3 linked regions of the Homo sapiens genome follow. The protein of the gene in region 3 purifies or fractionates together with the protein of the main gene of each other region. This does not show direct contact. Each region holds a gene or a part of one and is shown on either strand. Other genes may lie near its edges. The genes, in order: TBC1D19, SANBR and CSTPP1.

Region 1 (7,113 bases), on a different chromosome or scaffold from region 3:
ATGGCTGCATAGTATTCCATGGTGTATATGTGCCACATTTTCTTTATCCAGTCTACCATTGTTGGACATTTGGGTTGGTTCCAAGTCTTTGCTATTGTGAATAGTGCCGCGATAAACATACGTGTGCATGTGTCTTTATAGCAGCATGATTTATAATCCTTTGGGTATATACCCAGTAATGGGATGGCTGGGTCAAATGGTATTTCTAGTTCTAGATCCCTGAGGAATCGCCACACTGACTTCCACAATGGTTGAACTAGTTTACCATCCCACCAACAGTGTAAAAGTGTTCCTATTTCTCCACAACCTCTCCAGCACCTGTTGTTTCCTGACTTTTTAATGATCGCCATTCTAACTGGTGTGAGATGGTATCTCATTGTGGTTTTGATTTGCATTTCTCTGATGGCCAGTGATGATGAGCATTATTTCACGTGTCTTTTGGCTGTATAAATGTCTTCTTTTGGGAAGTGTCTGTTCATATCCTTTGCCCACTTGTTGATGGGGTTGATTGTTTTTTTCTTGTAAATTTGTTTGAGTTCATTGTAGATTCTGGATATTAGCCCTTTGTCAGATGAGTAGATTGCAAAAATTTTCTCCCATTCTGTAGGTTGCCTGTTCACTCTGACGGTAGTTTCTTTTGCTGTGCAGAAGCTCTTTAGTTTAATTAGATCACATTTGTCAATTTTGGCTTTTGTTGCCATTGCTTTTGGTGTTTTAGACATGAAGTCCTTGCCCATGCCTATGTCCTGAATGGTATTGCCTAGGTTTTCTTCTAGGGTTTTTATGCTTTTAGGTCTAACATTTAAATCTTTAATCCATCTTGAATTAATTTTAGTATAAGGTGTAAGGAAGGGATCCAGTTTCAGCTTTCTACATATGGCTAGCCAGTTTTCCCAGCACCATTTATTAAATAGGGAATCCTTTCCCCATTGCTTGTTTTTCTCAGGTTTGTCAAAGATCAGATAGTTGTAGATATGTGGCATTATTTCTGAGGCCTCTGTTCTGTTCCATTGGTCTATATCTCTGTTTTGGTACCAGTACCATGCTGGTTTGGTTACTGTAGCCTTGTAGTATAGTTTGAAGTCACGTAGTGTGATGCCTTCAGCTTTGTTCTTTTGGCTTAGGATTGACTTGGCAATGCAGGATCTTTTTTGGTTCCATATGAACTTTAAAGTAGCTTTTTCCAATTCTGTGAAGAAAGTCATTGGTAGCTTGATGGGGATGGCATTGAATCTATAAATTACCTTGGGCAGTATGGCCATTTTCATGATATTGATTCTTCCCACCCATGAGCATGGAATGTTCTTCCATCTGTTTGTATCCTCTTTTATTTCATTGAGCAGTGGTTTGTAGTTCTCCTTGAAGAGGTCCTTCACATCCCTTGTAAGTTGGATTCCTAGGTATTTTATTCTCTTTGAAGCAATTGTGAATGGGAGTTCACTCATGATTTGGCTCTCTGTTTGTCTGTTATTGGTGTATAAGAATGCTTGTGATTTTTGTACATTGATTTTGTATCCTGAGACTTTGCTGAAGTTGCTTATCAGCTTAAGGAGATTTTGGGCTGAGACGATGGGGTTTTCTAGATATACAATCATGTCATCTGCAAACAGGGACAATTTGATTTCCTCTTTTCCTAATTGAATACCCTTTATTTCTTTAACCTGCCTGATTGCCCTGGCCAGAACTTCCAACACTATGTTGAATAGGAGTGGTGAGAGAGGGCATCCTGTCTTGTGCCAGTTTTCAAAGGGAATGCTTCCAGTTTTTGCCCATTCAGTATGATATTGGCTGTGGGTTTGTCGTAAACAGCTCTTATTATTTTTGAGATATGTCCCATCAATACCTAATTTATTGAGAGTTTTTAGCATGAAGGGCTGTTGAATTTTGTCAAAGGCCTTTTCTGCATCTATTAAGATAATCATGTGGTTTTTGTCATTGATTCTGTTTATATGCTGGATTACAATTATTGATTTGCATATGTTGAACCAGCCTTGCATCCCAGGGATGAAGCCCACTTATCATGGTGGATAAGCTTTTTGATGTGCTGCTGGATTCGGTTTGCCAGTATTTTATTGAGGATTTTTGCATTGATGTTCATCAGGGATATTGGTCTAAAATTCTCTTTTTTTGTTGTGTCTCTGCCAGGCTTTGGTATCAGGATGATGCTGGCCTCATAAAATGAGTTAGGGAGGATTCCCTCTTTTTCTATTGATTGGAATAGTTTCAGAAGGAATGGTACCAGCTCCTCCTTGTACCTCTGGTAGAATCTGGCTGTGAATCCGTCTGGTCCTGGACTATTTTTGGTTGGTAAGCTATTTATTATTGCCTCAATTTCAGAGCCTGTTATTGGCCTATTCAGAGATTCAACTTCTTCTTGGTTTAGTCTTGGGAGAGTGTATGTGTCGAGGAATTTATCCATTTCTTCCAGATTTTCTAGTTTATTTGCGTAGATGTGTTTATAGTATTCTCTGATGGTAGTTTGTATTTCTGTGGGATCAGTGGTGATATCCCCTTTATCATTTTTTATTGTGTCTATTTGATTCTTCTCTCTTTTCTTCTTTATTAGCCTTGCTAGTGGTCTATCAATTTTGTTGTTCTTTTCAAAAAACCAGTTCCTGGATTCATTGATTTTTTGAAGGGTTTTTTTGTGTCTCTGTTTCCTTCAGTTCAGGCAGTTAATTTTTAAAGGACTCCAGCTCTTTCTCTTTCTCAAGGGGAATTGGGTTTCTTACATATAACTGAGTTTCTGCTTACACATTCTTTAATTTTTTTTAATTCCTGTTCCACAGTGGTGCGATCTCAGCTCCCTATAGCAGTTTTATTCATAAGTGCTAAAATTTGTATGCAACCAAGATGTCTATCAACAGGTGAATGCATAAACAAACTGTGGTACATCTATACAATAAAATATTACTAAACAGAAAAAAAAATCAGCTATCAAGCCACAAAAAGACAGAGAGGAACATTAAATGAATATTGCTAAGTGAAAGACACCAGTAAAATAACTACATACCACATAATTCCAACTATATGACATTCTTAAAAGCAAAACTATAGAGACAGTAAAAAGTGGTTGCCGGAGTCTCAGGGGGAAGGGAGGAATGAGCAGGTAAGCCACAGGGGATTTTTAGAATACTGAAACTATTCTGTATGATACTGGAATTGTGAATACATAAATACAGGACACCATGTATTTGTCAAAACCCACAGTAGCCATGTACATGGGTGAACACCTGGAATTCCAGCTACTTAGGAGACTGAGTCAGGAGGATCCCTTGAGCCCAGGAGCTTGAGACCAGCCTAGCGAGACAAACATAGCAAGACACTGACTCACAAAAAAAAAAAAAAAAAAAAAAAAAAAAAAACAGACCTGCAAGACAAAGAGTGAACCTTAATGTAAACCATGAACTTTAGTTAATAATAACGTATCAATATTAGTTCAACTGAAACAAATGTACCACACTAATGCAAGATGTTAATAATAGATGAAAATTGTGCAAAGGAGAGGGATAAATGGAAACTACTTTCTGATCAATTTTTCTGTAAATCTAAAGTCTATTAATTTAAAAATATTCTCAAATAGAAAACTGCAGACACAGGCTTCATTGAAGAATTCTTCCAAACATTTAAAAAATAACAAATCTCATAACACTCTTATGGCAAATAAAATTTTAAAAGGGAGGCAGCACTTCCCTACTCATTTTATGAGGCCAGCATAACCTTGATATAAAACGTGACAAAGATGGTTACAAGGAAGGAAAATTACATACCAATCATTCTCACGACATTATAGCAATATTTATACCCTAATTCTTGGAGTTCTGTTAGCTCCACTGTAGAAAGCCACTATAAAAGAATGTCACCCCCAGCCAAATAAGAAAAACAGTACAATATTCAAAAATCATACATTCTGAACCCATCAGTAAACTGAAGCTATAAGACAACCAAGTGAATTAAATTCCAAGTAGTAACAAGCTCCTTCAAGGACAAATGAGATTCTAAACTACTTCACCTTTGGCAGAGCACAGGAGGAAAAGGAAGCTACCATACAAGACAGTAAGAAATGAACTAAAATGTTAACTATCATAGACAAGATGTAGGCTAGTGTGTCGGTTTGGAATAATTTTGGAACCCAAAATGCAAGGGGAATTCACACACATTTGCATAGTCTTTTCCATAGGTCTATGCCAGGTGCCCATACAAAAGACTGAGAGCAGAAATCTACAAAGAGCACTCTGGTGGCACAGGTGTGCAAAACGAGATAGGCTGCCACTGCAGGACAAGCATAAAACTGCTACCTTGGCCAAACTCTCCTCTCATCTGAAGCAAAGGACTAAAAACACTGGGGAAGGTTCAGAAACCCTCCCATTCTGAAGACAAGGCAGTAATTCACTGCTTTTGGGGGTGGGATAGATACAAAAACCCTCAACCTCATAGGAAAATAAGAAAACTCTCTTGGGCCCAGGATCCTACAACAATACAAAGCAGAGGTAAATTAGCACTAGGGCAGGGCAGGTATGGGTCTTTCACTCAATACCACAGACACAAGGCAGAACTGGGCTGCCAAAGGGATAAGGGGATGGAACATGCCAAAGCTGGGAAAGCTCCACATCCAAGGATAAAGCACATGGACTGAGTCAGAAAAACAGATGACTCCTGCACCTACTGTGAGCCCAGGACTGAATAACAAACAACAGACTTCTGCTGGGGACAAGAGCACAAAGAGAGATCTCCCCCTGAGGAACAGGCAAGGAGACAGAAGAAAGTCAAGGATGTAGTAGAAACAATGAGAAAAACTCTGTAGTACCCTAAGATCTATGCCAAGCACAAAGTAACAGCAGTCTACTACTGGGTTTTGTTGTTGTTGTTGTTGTTGTTTGTGTTTTTGAGATGGAGTCTCGCTCTGTCCCCTAGGTTGAAGGGCAGTGGCACGATCTTGGCTCGCTGCAACCTCCACCTCCCGGGTTCAAGCAATTCTCCTGCCTCAGCTTCCCGAGTAGTTGGGATTACAGGAATGCACCACCACACCTGGCTAATTTTTGTATTTTTAGTAGAGACAGGGTTTCACCATGTTGGCGAGGCTGGTCTCAAACTCCTGGCCTTAAGTGATTTGCCCACCTCAGCCTCCTAACTACCTCTAGTTTCAAAGGAATCTGAAGCCTGTGATATACTGAAGGTAATGACAACAATAACAAAACCCAAACCCAGCTTGATCCTTGTCTATATTGACTGAAGCCCCTACACTCAGTAAGGATATAGAATACTGAAACAAAATTGCCTACTAGACCTAATTGACAATTATGGAACAGAAACAGCAGAATAAGCATGCTTTTCAAGTACATATGAAACAAACAAGATAAAACATATTCTGGATCATAAAAGTAAGTAAACAGCTAAAATCATACATATTTTATTCTTGACCATAAGAGAATTAAACTAGAAATCAATCAGAGAAAGATAGTGGTAAACAACACATTTATAAATAACCCATGGGTTATTAGAACCCATAAAATCACAAGAGAATTTTTTTAAATTTTAATTGGGTGAAAATGGCAATAGACTATATCCTAATTTATAGACACAGATAAACCAGTACATAGAAAGAAATTTAGAGCATTTAATTAGAAGAGAATAAAGGTCTCAAATCAAAAATTTAAATTTCACCTAAATAGCTTTAAAAATGCAAATTAAATCCAAAGCAAGCAGAAAAAAATAATAAAGGAAAAAAATCAGAGCGATTGAAAACAGAAAAACAATCAAACCAAGAGCTACTTCTTTGAAAGTATTGATATAATTGATAAATCTCTAGCCAGATTAATTAGGGAAAAAGAACACATGGCCAGGTGCGGTGGCTTATGCCTTTAATCCCAGCCCTTTAGGAGGCCAAGGCGGGCGGATCACGAGGTCAGGAGATCGAGACCATCCTGGCTAACACGGTGAAATCCTGTCTCTACTAAAAATACAAAAAATCATCTGGGCGTGGTGGCAGGCGCCTGTAGTCCCAGCTACTCAGGAGGCTGAGGTAGAAGAATGGCGTGAACCCGGGAGGCGGAGCTTGCAGTGAGCCGAGATCATGCCACTGCACTCCAGCCTGGGCGACAAAGCGAGATTTCACCTCAAAAAAAAAAAAAAAAAAAGAACACATATGACAGTATAAGGAAGGAAGGAGGGGCTATCACTACAAATCCTACAGACACTAAAAGGAATATAAGGGGATCATATAAACAATTTTATACCAGTAAATTCGTTAAAATAAATTAAGTGCGGCAACTTCTTGAAACATAAAAACTACAAAAGCTTACAGAAGAAGAAATAGATAACCTGAATGGCCTGCATATATTTTTAATTGAATTTTTTTAATTAAAAATGTGTCCATAAAGAAAACTCTAGGCACCAGTGACTTTGCTGGGAACTCTACCAAATATTTAAGGAGCAAATAATATTAATTCTACATAAATTCTTCCAGAAAATAAGGAACACTTCCCAACTTATTTTATAAGATCATCATTAACTGGTATCGAAAGCAGACAAAGTGTTACAAGAAAAAAAAAAACTACAAAGAAATATCTTTTTTTTTTTTTTTTTGAGACAAGGTCTGGCTCTATCACCCAGGCTGAAGTGCAGTGGTGCGATCTCTGCTCACTGCAACCTCTGCTACCCAGGTTCAAGCCATCCTCCCACCTCAACCTCTCAAGTAGCTGGGACTACAGGTGCGCACTGCCACACTGGCTAATTTTTGTATTTTTTGTGGAGATAGGGTTTTGCCATGTTGCCCAGGCTGGTCTCAAACTCGTGAGCTCAAGCGATCTGCCCACCTTGGCCTCCCAAAGTGCTAGGATTACAGGCATGAGCCATCGCGCCTGGCCACAAACCAGTATCTTTCATAAATACAGTTACAAAATCTTCAGCAAAATGTTAGCAAATTGAGTCAAGAAATATATAAAAAGAATAATGCATCATAACCAAGTGGAATTTATCTCAGGAATACAAAATTGGTGCAACATTCAAAGCCAATCAGTATTATTCATCATATCAACATGAGCAGGAAAAATAATATGAACATATCTACAGATATAAAAAAGTACTTAACAAAGTTCAACATCCATTCATGAT
Region 2 (7,113 bases), on a different chromosome or scaffold from region 3:
TAAGATTTATACCTGCCACAATTTTAAAAGATGCATTATTATTATTTGAAATATTCTAAAGAAGGTTGAAAATAATTTTTTAGGTATGTATATATGTTGTTACAAATTTGACCTGCTAGATTGCCTTTGGAACAGTACAGATTAAGTCAAAAACTGGGTGGCAAAACCCAGTTAGTGCCTAGCAATATATGGATTAGACTTTTAATGAATTTTATCTTTGAAAGGTATTGCTATGACATTGTCCTTCATGCTACTATTTTCGACATTTATTTTCTATGATTTTTTAGGTTGAACAGTGTATTCAGTATTGCCACAAAAATATGAATGCCATAGTAGCTACCCCATGCAACATGAACTGTATTAATGCAAATCTTCTCACACGTATAGCTGATCTGTTCTCACACAATGAAGTTGATGATTTAAAGGACAAAAAAGATAAATTTAAAAGGTAATTTCAAAAGTTTAATTTTAAACCTAATACTCCTGTTAAAAGAAATATATTTCTATTTCATGTGAGTGAAATATTCTTTCTTTTTTCTTTTTTCTTTGAGAAAGGTTCTCACTCTGTTGTTCAGGCTGGAGTGCAGTGGTGCAATCTTGGCTCACTGCAGCCTCAACCTCCTGAGCTCTGGTGATCCTCCCACCTCAGCCTCCCAAGTAGCTGGGACTACAGGAATGCACCACCATGCCCAGCTAAATTAAAAAAAAAAAAAAAAATTTTGACCAGGCACAGTGGCTCACGCTTGTAATCCCAGCACTTTGGGAGGCCGAGGCGGGCAGATCACGAGGTCAAGAGATCAAGGCCATCCTGGCTAACATGGTGAAACCCCGTCTCTACTAAAAATACAAAAAATTAGCCAGGTGTGGTGGCAGGCGCCTGTAGTCCCAGCTGCTTGGGTGGCTGAGGCAGGAGAATGGCATGAACCTGGGAGGCGGAGCTTGCAGTGAGCCGAGATCACGCCACTGCACTCCAGCCTGGGTGACAGAGCGAGACTCCGTCTCAAAAAAAAAAAAAACTTTTTGTAGAGACAGGGTCTCACTTTGTTGCCCAGTTTTTGAAATTAATTTTTACTCTCTCTTTTCATTTATAGTTAGCTTATTATTATTATTTTGAGACGGTCTCTCTCTGTCGCCCAGGCTGGAGTGCAGTAGCAAGATACCAGCCACAACCTGTACCTTCAGGCTCAAGCGATCCTTCCACCTCAGCCTTCCAAGTAGCTGGAACCACAGGCGCACGCCACCATGCGCAGCTGATTTTTGTATTTTTTGTAGAGATGGGGGTTTGCTGCGTTGCCCAGCCTGGTCTTGAACTCCTGGGCTCAAGCAATCCACCCGCCTTGGCCTCCCAAAGTGCTGGGATTACAGGTGTGAGCCACCATGCCTGGCCAAAATACTCTATTTTTAGAATATATTTAGAAATATATTTCTATTTTTAAATGAAGTAAGTAAAGTGAAGTAAAATTTATCCAGAGCCAATGGCTCAAGATAAAAATTAGTAATTAGTTACTTTGTATAATGGCCATATGAACATATCGTGATAGTGAATTATGTTAAAAATTATGAAGATATTACTCAAGAGGCTGAGGTGGGATGATTGCTTGAGGCCAGGTGTTGAAAGCTGTAGGGCACTACTATTATCCCTCTGAAAAGCCACTGCACTCCAGCCTGGGCAACATAGTGAGACCCATTTCTAAACAAATAAAAATTATTAAAACAGACCTTAGATAAAGGGAAAAGTGGTATGAAACGAGGTCAGCAGTGGTTATATCATTTAAGGGTTGTTTAGGTCATAGCAAGGAGGATATACTTTAGGTGTGAATGCAAGCAGGGGAGTGACGTGATCTGATTTGTTGTTAAGAGGCCATTTTTGGTTGCTATGTGGAGAATAGACATTAGGGATTTAAGAAGCAAGGAGACCTGTTAAGAGGCTGGTGCAGTAGTCTGTTGAGAAGTGAAAGGGTTTGCACTAGGGTAGAAACGGTAGAGCTGGAAAGAAGTAGATGGACTCAGTTGTTAGATTTGACAGATTTATGAATGTAATGATGTGGGGAGAGAGAGAGGATTCCAGGATAATTATTAGGTTTTCAGTTTGAGTAACTAAGTGGATGGTAGTGCTATTAATGGAGAAAGGAAAGATTGGGAGAGGAAGGAATAGGGTAAGGGAAATCAAGAGATAGCTTTAGTTCTTTTTGAGATTATTTAACATGCTTCTTGGACATTCAAGTGGGATGGCAAGTAGATACCTGGATATATTAATCTGGAGTTTAGGTCAAAGGTCAGGACTTAAAATAGAAATTTAAGAGTAGATGAGATTTGAAACCATGGAACTGGATGAGACCATACTTTTTTTGTATGTCCTGTTCAATAAATCTTTGCCTCCCTAAAAGTGGTGAAGACATTGTCCTATGTTTTTCTGTTATTCATCTTGAATTAATTTTTTTTTGTGGTATGAGGTAGGGGTCAAGGTTCATTTTTTTTTCCCCAAATAGATATCTAGTTGACACAATACCATATGTTGAAAAGACCATCCTTTCCCCCACTGAATTGCACTAGTACGTTTACTATATGTGAAGTCTGTTTCCGAATTGTCCTTTGTGTTCTGTTGATTTCTTTGTCTATCCTTGTATCAGTAGCACACTGTTACACTGTCTTTTTTTTTTTGAGACAGAATTTCACTCTTGTCACCCAGGCTGGAGTGCAATCATGAGATCTCGACTCTCTGCAACCGCCGCCTCCCAGGTTCAAGCAATTCTCCTGCCTCAGCCTCCCAAGTAGCTGGGATTATAGGCACCCACCACCACACCCAGCCAATTTTTATATTTTTAGTAGAGACGGGGTTTCACCATGCTGGCCAGGCTGGTCTTGAACTCCTGACCTCAGGTGATCCGCCCGCCTCGGCCTCCCAACGTGCTGAGATTACAGACGTGAGCCACCACACCCAGCCAACACACTGTCTTAATTTTGATAGCTTTATAATCATTTTTGGTATCTGGTAATTTAAATTCTCAAGTTTTGCCTATCTTCAAGATTGTAGTGTTGTCTATTAAGTTCTTGGCATTTCTATATAAATTTGATAATCAGCTTACCCATTTTCTCTTTCTCACAATCACATAAACCTGCTAGAATTTGGGATTCATGTAATCTGTAGATCAATTTAGGAAGATTTAACCTTTTAATAATAGTGTGTCTTTCAATCCATGAATATGGTATAACCTTCCATTAATTTGAATCCTCCTTAATTTATTTCACCAATGTCTTGTAGTTTTCAATGTAGAGATATTTTTCCTTTTTATTTATTTTATTTTATTTTTTGAGACAGGGTCTTCTTGCTCAGTCACCCAAGCTGGAGGGTAGTGGTACAGCCATGGCTTACTGCGGCCTCAAACTCCTGGGCTCAAGCATCCTCCCACCTTGATCTCCCAAAGTTTTGGAATTAACAAGTGTGAGCCACCATACCCAACCTCTTTTTTAAATTAAATTTATTCCTAAAATAAATTAAATAAATAAATTTATTTAATAAATTAAATTGTTGGTGCTATTGTAAATGCTACTGTATTTCATTTTTTAATTGTTAGCAAAATAGTATTGATAAAGGCTACCCAATATTTAGAGATGCAGCAGAGGAGAAGTAGCCAGTTAAGAACCTGAGAAGGAGGAGCCAGTGAAGTAGAAAGAAAGGCAGAAGGAAAAAAGGTTTCCAAAGAAAGATAATGCTTAAGTGACCAAATGTGTGGAATGCTGCCATCACATAGAGTAAGATGGGGACAGAAATGTGACCAAGTGGATTTAGAAAACTTTTTTCCGGATGTTTTACTTTGCATGACTGCTGAAAAAATTAGCAGTAGCTATTAGGGATAGGTAGGCTCAAGAGAGGATTTTTTGTTTTTTTAGGAAGGGAGATACTAGATTATGTTTATATGCTGATCAGAATGATCCATTAGGAATAAATTAATAATGCAGGGGATTATTCAAGAATTTAATCCTTAAGGGGAACAACACAGAGAGGAATTATCCAAGAGCTAAATAATTGAAAACAGAAATGGAATTCTAAATCCAGATTTGGCTTTTAATAGCAGAAGACATTACACAAGGAAAGATGGAGACAGGTAGGATATACATTTAGAATTAAAGACATACTTAGAAGACTCAAGTTCAGTTATATTATGCATAATAATTAACGTTTATTGAATGCTTAACGTTATATCTAGTACTCTTTAAAAACATCACTTAACCCTCATAAAACTTTATGAGATTGGACATACTAACCACACTTTATACTTGAGAAAACAAGGTTCAAAGAGGTTAAGTAAGTGGCTAAAGATCATATACCTAGTTATTGGTAGGCCTCGGTTGTTAAATTCTCAAAATCTTTAATGTTGCATATTCCAGTAACAAAGGACTAAAAGAGGCCAGGCAAGGTGGCTCAAGCCTGTAATCTCAGCACTTCGGGAGGCCAAAGCAGGAGGATTACTTGAAGGCCAGGAGTCTGAGGCCAGCCTGGGCAACATAGCCAGCCCCAATCTCTACAGATTTTTTTTTTTTTTAATTAACTGAATGTGGTGGCACACAGTAGTCCTAGCTACTTGGGAGGCTGATGTGGGAGATCACCTGATCCCAGGAGTTTGAGGCCCAGGAGTCTGAGGTGCCACTGCACTCCAGCGTGGGTGATGGAGCAAGACCCTGTCTCTAAAAAAATAAAATAAGGCCGGGTGCAGTGGCTCACGCCTGTAATCCCAGTACTTTGGGAGGCTGAGGTGGGCGGATCATGAGGTCAAGAGATCGAGACCATCCTGGCCAATATGGTGAAACCCAATCTCTACTAAAAATACAAAAAATTTGCTGGGCATGGTCATGCACACCTGTAGTCCCAGCTACTCGGGATGCTCAGGCAGGATAATCGCTTGAACCCGGAAGGCAGAGGTTGCAGTGAGCAGAGATCGTGCTGTTGAACTCCAGCCTGGGCGACAGAGTGAGACTCTGTCTCAAAAAAAAAAAGTAAAAATAAAAAATAAAATTTAAAAATGACTGAAAGATAGCTATTTATCAATCTTATTTTTTATGGGAAAATAGATGATTGATCAAGCAGTTCTCATCAGAACTGCTTTATTTTATTTACTTAATAATAAACTGTTAATTTTATTTACTTAGAACACTAAAAATGTATTATAAACTCCCAAGAGAGCCACTAAGGATTTATTAATCTTATTTTACAAATGCACAGATTGGTTTGTTTATTTTCATCACTATAAAGTAGTGTAGAAAATTAATATTTTGGTCATTTGTTGTTAATAGCAAACTTTTTTGTAAGAAGATTGAAAGACTGTTTGATCCTGAGTACTTGAATCCAGATTCTCGGAGTAATGCAGCAACATTGTATAGGTATGCTAACATGTTTTTTTCTTTGGTGTACTTTATAATGCAGCTATATTCTTTAATTTACTACATTTACATTCTTCTTCCTGGATGTTTTTTGTATCTTCTTTGTTTATAGATGCTGTTTGTGTAAGAAACTTTTAACAAAAGAAACAGAAAGAAGAATTCCTTGCATTCCTGGAAAAATCAATGTGGATCGACGTGGAAATATTGTCTATATTCACATAAGGTGTCGTGAAGATAAAATACATACATGTATTTTTGTATATATATATATATAGTTGTTGTTGTTGTTTTGGAGACGGAGTCTTACTCTGTCACCCAGGCTGGCGTGCAGTGGTGTGGTCTTGGCTGACTGCAACCTTCCGCCTCCCAGGTTCAAGCGATTCTCCTGCCTCAGCTTCCTGAGAAGCTGGGACTACAGGCGTGTGCCACCACACCCAGCTAGTTTTTGTATTTTTAGTAGAGATGGAGTTTCACTGTGTTGGCCAGGCTGGTCTCGAACTCCTGACCTCATGATTTGCCCGCCTTGGCCTCCCAAAGTACTGGGATTATAGGTGTGAGCCACCGCTCCCAGCCCAGATTTTTTTTAAATGTGAATTTCTAGCATATTTATAAAAATATAACTACTTTTATAAGGAATGGGATAACATCTTTTCTGCATGTTATCCAACTTTCATTTAGAAAAATACTTTCTAAACAAGGTAGTTGTTAGTACATTTTATTTACTGGGTAAGTGTCATAATGTTTTACACATTAAAATGATAAAAATTATTGTATATTAATCTTGAAAGGTATTCTGGTTAGTGCCTTTAAAATGCTCTCTTTTCACTAACAGATTTTAGTTATCTGTACAAATGTTATATTGAATTTTACAAGAGAACCAAATTTACTTTCAGGTAAATTTTGGTGAGGAAAATTGTCTTTAGCATTGGATTTTCTGTCATCTATTTGTTCTTCATACTTTGTCAGTATTTCATTAATATGTAGGCCGGGCACGGTGGCTCACACCTATAATCCCAGCACTTTGGGAGGCCAAGTCAGGTGGATCACCTGAGGTGAGGAGTTTGAGACCAGCCTGACCAACATGGTGAGACCCCGTCTCTACTACAAAAAACTAGTTGAGCATGGTGGTGGGTGCCTGTAGTCTCAGCTACTTGGGAGGCTAAAGCAGGGGACTCACTTGAACCCAGGAGGCAGAGGTTGCAGTGAACCGAGATAGTGCCACTGCACTCCAGCCTGGTGACAGAGCAAGACTCCATCTGAAAAAAATAAATAAAATAAAAATTAGCTGGGAATGGTGGTGCACACCTGTAACCCAGCTACTTGGGAGGCCAAGGCAGGAGAATCACTTGAACCCGGGAGGTGGAGGTTGCAGTGAGCCGAGAGCACACCATTGCACTCCAGCCTAGACAACAAGAGTGAAACTCCATCTCAAATAAATAAAATAAATAAATACATAATACATATTTCTCTTTATGTTCAAAACAAGTTCTCATTCTGAGTTGAGGGTGGGTGTTGTAACTTGGTATAATGTCTCAGGAGGCAGAAACCTCAAAATGTGTATTCTTTGACATCCTTCATCCAGTATCATTCAGGCTGAAATGCAGTGGTGCAATCATAGCTCACTGCAGCCTTGAACTCCTGGGCTCAAGAGATCTTCTTGCCTGTATTCTCAGCATTTTGGGAGGCTGAGGTGAGAGGATTACTTGAGACCAGGAGTTTGAGACCAGCCTGGGC
Region 3 (7,135 bases):
TAAATGAAAAAGTATGCACTGTATACTCCTTTATGTATATAATAAACTCTGGAAAGATACACAGGAAAACAATAATAGTGGTTACTTTTGGGAGGCTGAGGATGGATGGAAACTGGGCAGATGGAGGCAAAGGGGTAGGCTTTTCACTAAAAACATCTACCTATCTATCTATCTATCTATCTATCTATCTATCTATCTATCTATGCATTTTAGAGGCAGGGTCTCACTCTATCATCCAGTCTGGTCTTGAACTCCTGACCTCAAGCAATCCTCCTACGTCAGCCTCCCAAAGTATTGGGATTACAGGCATGAGCCACCATGCCAGGCCTAAAAAATACTTTGAATCAAGTTTCCATATTACCAACCTTAAAAAATATTTTAAAATTAATTTTTAAAATAAGTTAAACAAAATGTAAACCAGAATTGTTTTTCATTTAAAAAGATGTTGGCTGGGCGCGGTGGCTCACGCCTGTAATCCAAGCAGTTTGGGAGGCCGAGGTGGGTGGATCACCTGAGGTCAGGAGTTTGAGACCAGCCTGACCAACATGGAGAAACCCATCTCTACTAAAAATACAAAATTAGCCAGGCGTGGTGGCGCATGCCTGTAATCCCAGGTACTAGGGAGGCTGAGGCAGGAGAATCACTTGAACCCAGGAGGCGGAGGTTGGGGTGAGCCCAGATCGCATCATTGCACTCCAGCCTAGGCAACAAGAGTGAAACTCCATCTCAAAAAAAAAAAAAAAAAAAAAAAAAGATGTAAGCCAGGTGCAGTGACTCACACCTGTAATCTCAGTACTTTGGAAGGCCACAGTAAGAGGCTTGCTTGAGCCCTGGAGTTCAAGACCAACCTGGACAACATAGTGAGACTCTTTCTCTACAAAAAATTAAAAAATTAACCAGGGATGGTGGCATGTGCCTGTAGTCCCAGCTACTTGGAAGGCTGAGGTAGCAGGATCACTTGAGCCCGGAGGTTGAGGCTGCAGTGAGCCGTGATAGTGCCACTGCACTCCAGCCTGAGTGACAGTGCCAGACATTGTCTCAAAAAAAAAAAAAAAGAAGAAGAAAAAAAAAAAAGATGTGCATGGTACATCCATACAATGGAATATTATTCAGAAATAAAAAGAAATGAGTTATCATGCCACAGAAAGACATGGAGGAAACTTAAATGCTTACTGCTAAGTTAAAGAAGCCCATCTGAAAAATTTACACACTGTATGACTCCAACTACATGATATTCTGGAAAAGGCAAAACTTTAGAGACCATAAGATCAGTGGTTGGCAAGGGCTGCAGGGGGAGGGAGAAGGATCAATAGGTGGAGCACAGGGGATTTTTCAGGACAGTGAAACTATTCTGTATGATAATGGAATGGTGAATACATGACATGCATTTATCAAAACCCACAGAACTGAACAACACAAAGAACCCTAATGTAAACTATGGACTTTAGTTAATAATATGTATCTATAATAATATATCTATATAATAATAATAATATATAATATATTATTATATATTATAAATATATATGTTTATCCATTGTAACAAATGTACCACACTAATGCAAGATGTAAATAATAGCGGAAACTGTGAGTGAGGGAGACCCAAGGTATATGGGAACTCGCCGTACTATCTGCTCAATTTTCTGTAAACTTAAAACTTCTCGCCATGTGCAGTGGCTCACGCCTGTAATCCCAACACTTTGGGAGGCCGAGGTGGGCGGATCACCTGAGGTCAGGAGTTTGAGACCAGCCTGACCAACATGGTGAAACCCCGTCTCTACTAAAAATATAAAATTAACCTGGCGTGGTGGCGCATGCCTGTAATCTCAACTACTCGGGAGGCTGAGGCAGGAGAATCGCTTGAATCCGGGAGGCAGAGGTTGCAGTGTACTCCAGCCTGGGCAACAGGAGAGAAACTCTGTCTCAAAAAACAAAACAAAACAAAACAAAACGTCTTTAAAAAAATAAAAGTCTATGAATTATTTAAAATGTGTATTGTGGCCGGGCGCGGTGGCTCACGCCTGTAATCCAAGCACTTTTGGAGGCTGAGGCGGGCAGATCACGAGGTCAGGAGATCGAGACCATCCTGGTTAACACGGTGAAACCCCGTCTCTATTAAGTATACAAAAAAGTAGCCGGGCGAGGTGGCGGGCGCCTGTAGTCCCAGCTACCCGGGAGGCGGAGCTTGCAGTGAGCCAAGATCGCGCCACTGCACTCCAGCCCGGGCGACAGAGCTAGACTCCGTCTCAAAAATAAAATAAAATAAAATGTGTATTGTGTGCATATGTGTGTGTGTGTACATATCTATGCGTGTGTGTGCCTTTTTTCATTCATTAAATGCCTTATACACTAAAGATGCTCAACAAAGTACTACATATACAGTCTTAGCTCAAGAGCCAAGTCAATATCTCAAGTTCTGTTGGAGTGGGCAAATCCGGTTCTGATCCTAGCGCTACCATTTTCTAGCTGTGTGGCCTAACTTAACGCAAGTTACCTCTTCAGCCCCAGTTTCTCCACCTGCAAAACTGGAAGAAAACACGGTAATTCCTCCTAGGGCTGTTGAGAAATTCAAATGAAGAATGATGCATGAAAAATGCTTAGCACAGTGCCTAATGAAAAAGAAAAGCTCGAAATGTTCGCTGACTGATTTGGCACTTGAGGTTCCAAGGTTATTCTTACTCCACTACCAGCATATCAATAATACCCCAACAGGGCCCCAAATCCTCAACGCCAACCTGACCCATTTGAACACAATCCACATTGCCTGAGTTCCAGCCCCTACACTTCAAACATTCTTTACTTCCCAGGTGCTTTTTTCCTTCCTGCTCGGCCTTACAGGCTCAGGCCCTGGAACCCCCGCCTCTCCGCCCCTCCCCATACCACCCGGACCCGATCCCACTCAGACCCCGCCCCCGCCTCCTCCCAGACCCTGGCCTAATTCGTCTGCACGTCTTTCCCTCCCCAAAGTTAAAGGGGGTTCCTACCCAGATACTCGTAGTCCGGTAGGGCTAGGCGCTCCGGACTCAGCATCCTTTGACCGGGGTGGCTTCAAAGCTCCAGCTCTCCGGCTTCCGGAACCCAGGTTGCCGTCTCTCTCCGTTGCCATGGCACCCACGCGGCGGAAGGGGGACGGGAGCTGGAGGAGGTGTCACACAAACAGTCTCCGTGTCGCAAAGTGGAGCTGGCCACTCAAGTTCCGGGGGCAGTCGCTTCACGATGGTCCAGGTTTCTTTGGACTCCCATTCTTGAAGACTTGGTTTTAGAGGAATCTGAGATGAAGAATTCTTTTGAATCCGTTATGTTTCCCAGTGTCGAAGAATTACTGTCAGCCGCCCATATACGCAGTTTCTGAATTTCATAACTATCCCTGCTTTTATACACTGTTTATCCTAACTCAGTAATAGCCCCCGCCCTTTGGCCCCCATAAACACTTAGTATCCCATTAGCTATTTTTATCTCTTTGGTATTTACTATCTTAAATTGCTACAAAGTGCTTACGTATGCATATACCCTGGATGCTTCTAGAGGTCAGAGATGTGTCTTTTCTGCCTATGACGGCTGGACACACAAAAGGTACTCATTAAGTCCTCTGAACTAATTGCCATTTCTTCTCAATTCTCACTCAGTCGCCCAGGCTGGAGTGCAGTAGCGTGATCTCGGTTCATTGCAACCAGCGCCTCCCGGGTTCAAGCGATTCTCCTGCCTCAGCCTCCCAAGTAGCTGGGATTACAGGCGCCCGCCACTCCGCCTGGCTAATTTTTTGTGTTTTTAGTAGAGATGGGGTTTCACCATGTTGGCGAGGCTGGTCTGCAAACTCTTGACCTCAGGTGATCCGCCGACCTCAGGTGATCCGCCTGCCTCAGGCCTCCCAAAGTGCTGGGATTACAGGCGTGAGCCACCGCGCCCAGGCTCAATTCCTTTTTATCTTTGGTTCTTCTTTCTATTCCTAGCCCTTACTATTTGGTACCTTTCCCAGGTGTCTTTCCTTTTTCCTACCAAGACATTGCTCTTCTTGAGGGAGAGGGGCTGCAGAAACGAGGACACCAGTTAGATTTTTTTCCCTATATGCCCAATTGCTCACTTCTTCTTTAAGAGAATATTCACTGGTTTTCAAGTTCCTAAATATTTCTTTTCGCCCCTCTCCACTCCTGACAACAGGTCAGAGATCTGTAGCACTAGACACAGTTCAGACATAGCAGAAAAAGCCACTCTGTCCTCACTTTTTTAGTGCCCTCCCCCTCCAACAAGGTGAGGTTTGTGAAAAAGAGACAAAGAAAACAAAATCAAGCTATCAAAGGAATGACTGGGAAACCAGTAGACCACCTACACTGGGAGGAAAAGGAAAGAGGAGGTTCTTCTCTTTGTGTTCCGAGTGGCCTATTCTTAGCGTCCTCCAGTAAGGAGCCTCAAACCTCCTAATTCTTGCTTTCCCTTAAAATTGTATATGTGTCTCAATTCTAGGCTCCTGTGAGTCACTCTAAGTTTGGATGTGGTGAGGTTAAAAGGACAGAGCCAAAGTAGGAGCAGGGCTTAGTGTCTTGAGGCAAATTTACTAATTTGGTATTTGGTGTGAAGTCCAGCAAATCTGATTTTTTTTTAATTGCCTTCTTATCTGCTTCCCCCATCTAGCTTGAGGTTATGGGAGGTTCATATGTTCCATAACTGTGGCTTTTTACTATTTTATTAATAAGGTAATACCATAGTAATTATTAAGTGATAATTTTACTTTATTCCCAAGCAACTTGTAGCTATTTGCAAATAATCTTATTTGTCCTCATAAAAACTTTCTGCTGAGGTGGGCGGATCACGAGTTCAGGAGTTCGAGACCAGCCTGGCCAATATGGAGAAACCCCATCTCTACTAAAAATACAAAAATTAGCCAGGCGTGGTGGCGCACGCCTGTAATCCCAGCTACTCAGGAGGCTGAGGCAGAAGAATCACTTGAACCGGGGAGGCAGAAGTTGCAGTGAGCCAAGATCGCACCACTGCACTCCAGCCTGGGCGACACAGCGAGACTCCGTCTCAAAAAAAAAAAAAAAAAAAAAAAAAAAACCTTTCTAAGGCACTTTTCCATTTTCTAACTAGGGAAACTGAGGCACAAGTCACAACAGTGACTTGTCTAGTGACTTGTCTAGCATCATGCAGCCACATAGTGGTAGAGCTACAACTGGATCTCAGCTATCCCAACATCCAGGCCAGTGGTCTGACCACTAAACCACACAGTCTCTTTTTTTAGGGTTTGTTGACCTGGCTTTTATTTATTTATTTTTCCTTTTGCTCTGCCCTGCTAGCAACTGGAAGCTCCCAGATAGAAGAAGATAATGTTGAGTCCAGGCTGAACATTTGACATCGTCTTATTTGTGGAGCATTATCCTGGGACTTGGCGGGTGCTGGCTGCTGGGGTCTGTGTGGTGGAGCTGGGAACCAGCCCCAAGAATATAGCTTTGTTTGGGCATTAACCCATTTGTGGTTATAATAATGATAAGTTTCAGCACCAGTGGCGCCCGACTGTTAATGACTCAAAGAAGGCTAAATAAGAACAAGATGTCATCTCTGGAGCAATTTGTAGGTTTTTCCTACAGTTCCATCCCTTCCATAAAAATCCGAAGGACCCCTGTATTCAAAGTCAGTCTTCCACTCTGAATGTCCTGAACAGTCTATTGAGGAGGAGGACTTAGAAAAGTAGGAGGTTGCTAGAGTAAGGCTTCACAAAAATTTGAAGTTTCACCGAAATAACAGGTGGCCTTACTGGTAGTGGAATTACTGACTGTTTACATTTTTCTTCTTTATATTTTTCTATAGTCTTAAACTTTCTATAATAGGCATGTATTATAACCTGAAAACAAATAATAAATGAGTGGCCTGAAAATCTTTAAAATTTTTTAAGCAGATGTGATGACCTTCCAGACAGTGTTTGTTTTTCCCAAAAAGAAGCCACTGCTAGATTTCTCTTCTGTCACAGATTACATGATAATAGATTTTTGAAACACATTGGTTATTGGTGAAATTTTTCAATGAAACATACACTACATCAGTCTTAAGAAGAGTAGAAATATATAAGAGTTGTTAAAATTAAGTGTATTTTTTGTGACTTGAATGTGAAAGAAAGAAAAAAAATGTCAGCCTTTGATTTAAATTGACTTTTCAGGTTCTTAACTTATCATAATATATTTCTTAAAAATTTACCAAAAAAAAAAATCACCGAGGTAAATCGGTAAGTCAGAAGACAACTCCATAATCCTGAAAAGAGGCAAGTGATAAGATATTGATGATAAATAGAGCATCGGATGTTAAAGGCAGTACTACAGCATGACGACTGTAAACATCAAATTCAGAACAATAAGAAAAAAACAAGAGAGAGAATATATTGAGATGGTTTTTGTTTTTGTTTGTTTGTTTTTTGAGACAGAGGCTCACTCCATCATCCAGAAAGGAGTGGAATGGTGCAATCTCTGCTTACTGCAACCTCTGTGTCCCAGGTTCAAGCCATTCTCCTGCCTCAGCCTCCCGAGTAGTTGGGACTACAGGTGTGTGCCACCACACCCGGCTAATTTTTGTATTTTCAGTAGAGACAGGGTTTCGCCATGTTGACCAGGCTGGTCTCGAACCCCTGACTTCAAGTGATCCACCCGCCTCAGTCTCCCAAAGTGCTGGGATTACAGGTGTGAGCCACTGCACCTTTTGTTTTTTGTTTGTTTGTTTGTTTTGTTTTTTAGTATATATAAGGTCTCCCTTTGTCACCCAGGCTGGAGTGCAATGGCACAATCACAACTCACTGTAGCCTGGAATTCTTGGGCTCAAGTAATCCTCCCACCTCAGCCTCCTGAGTAGCTGGGATCACTGGTGCATGCCACCACATCCAGATAATATTTTTAATTTTGTAGAGACAAGGTCTTGCTAGGTAGCCCAGGCTGGTTTCGAATTCCTGAGCTCAAGCAATCCTCCTGCCTCAGTCTCCCAAAGTGCATGAGCCACTGCACCCAGCTGAGACATCAATTTATCAGATTATAATTTCTGATTTTATAATGAGAAAATTAATAGACATCTCTGGCTCTGCAGAAGACCTATTAAGAGATTGATAGGGAAGAAAATCCTCCCTATAATTGAAGACTATAGAAAAGCAAACGGTGAATAC

What was found.
Region 1: the proteins of CSTPP1 (region 3) and TBC1D19 purify together in Homo sapiens (co-immunoprecipitation; 2 studies listed by BioGRID and IntAct, with this or other methods). This does not show direct contact.
Region 2: the proteins of CSTPP1 (region 3) and SANBR purify together in Homo sapiens (co-immunoprecipitation; 2 studies listed by BioGRID and IntAct, with this or other methods). This does not show direct contact.

What each region holds. Positions count from the first base shown.
Region 1 is NC_000004.12:26,587,049-26,594,161, reverse strand, and holds part of TBC1D19 (TBC1 domain family member 19), read right to left. Parts: intron 1-7,113. UniProt on the Homo sapiens protein: May act as a GTPase-activating protein for Rab family protein(s).
Region 2 is NC_000002.12:61,082,867-61,089,979, forward strand, and holds part of SANBR (SANT and BTB domain regulator of class switch recombination), read left to right. Parts: intron 1-287; coding exon 288-448; intron 449-5,292; coding exon 5,293-5,379; intron 5,380-5,491; coding exon 5,492-5,602; intron 5,603-7,113. UniProt on the Homo sapiens protein: Negatively regulates class switch recombination or isotype switching in splenic B-cells.
Region 3 is NC_000011.10:46,932,701-46,939,835, reverse strand, and holds the start of CSTPP1 (centriolar satellite-associated tubulin polyglutamylase complex regulator 1), read right to left. Parts: upstream 3,031-7,135; coding exon 2,985-3,030; intron 1-2,984. UniProt on the Homo sapiens protein: Regulator of the tubulin polyglutamylase complex (TPGC) that controls cytoskeletal organization, nuclear shape, and cilium disassembly by balancing microtubule and actin assembly.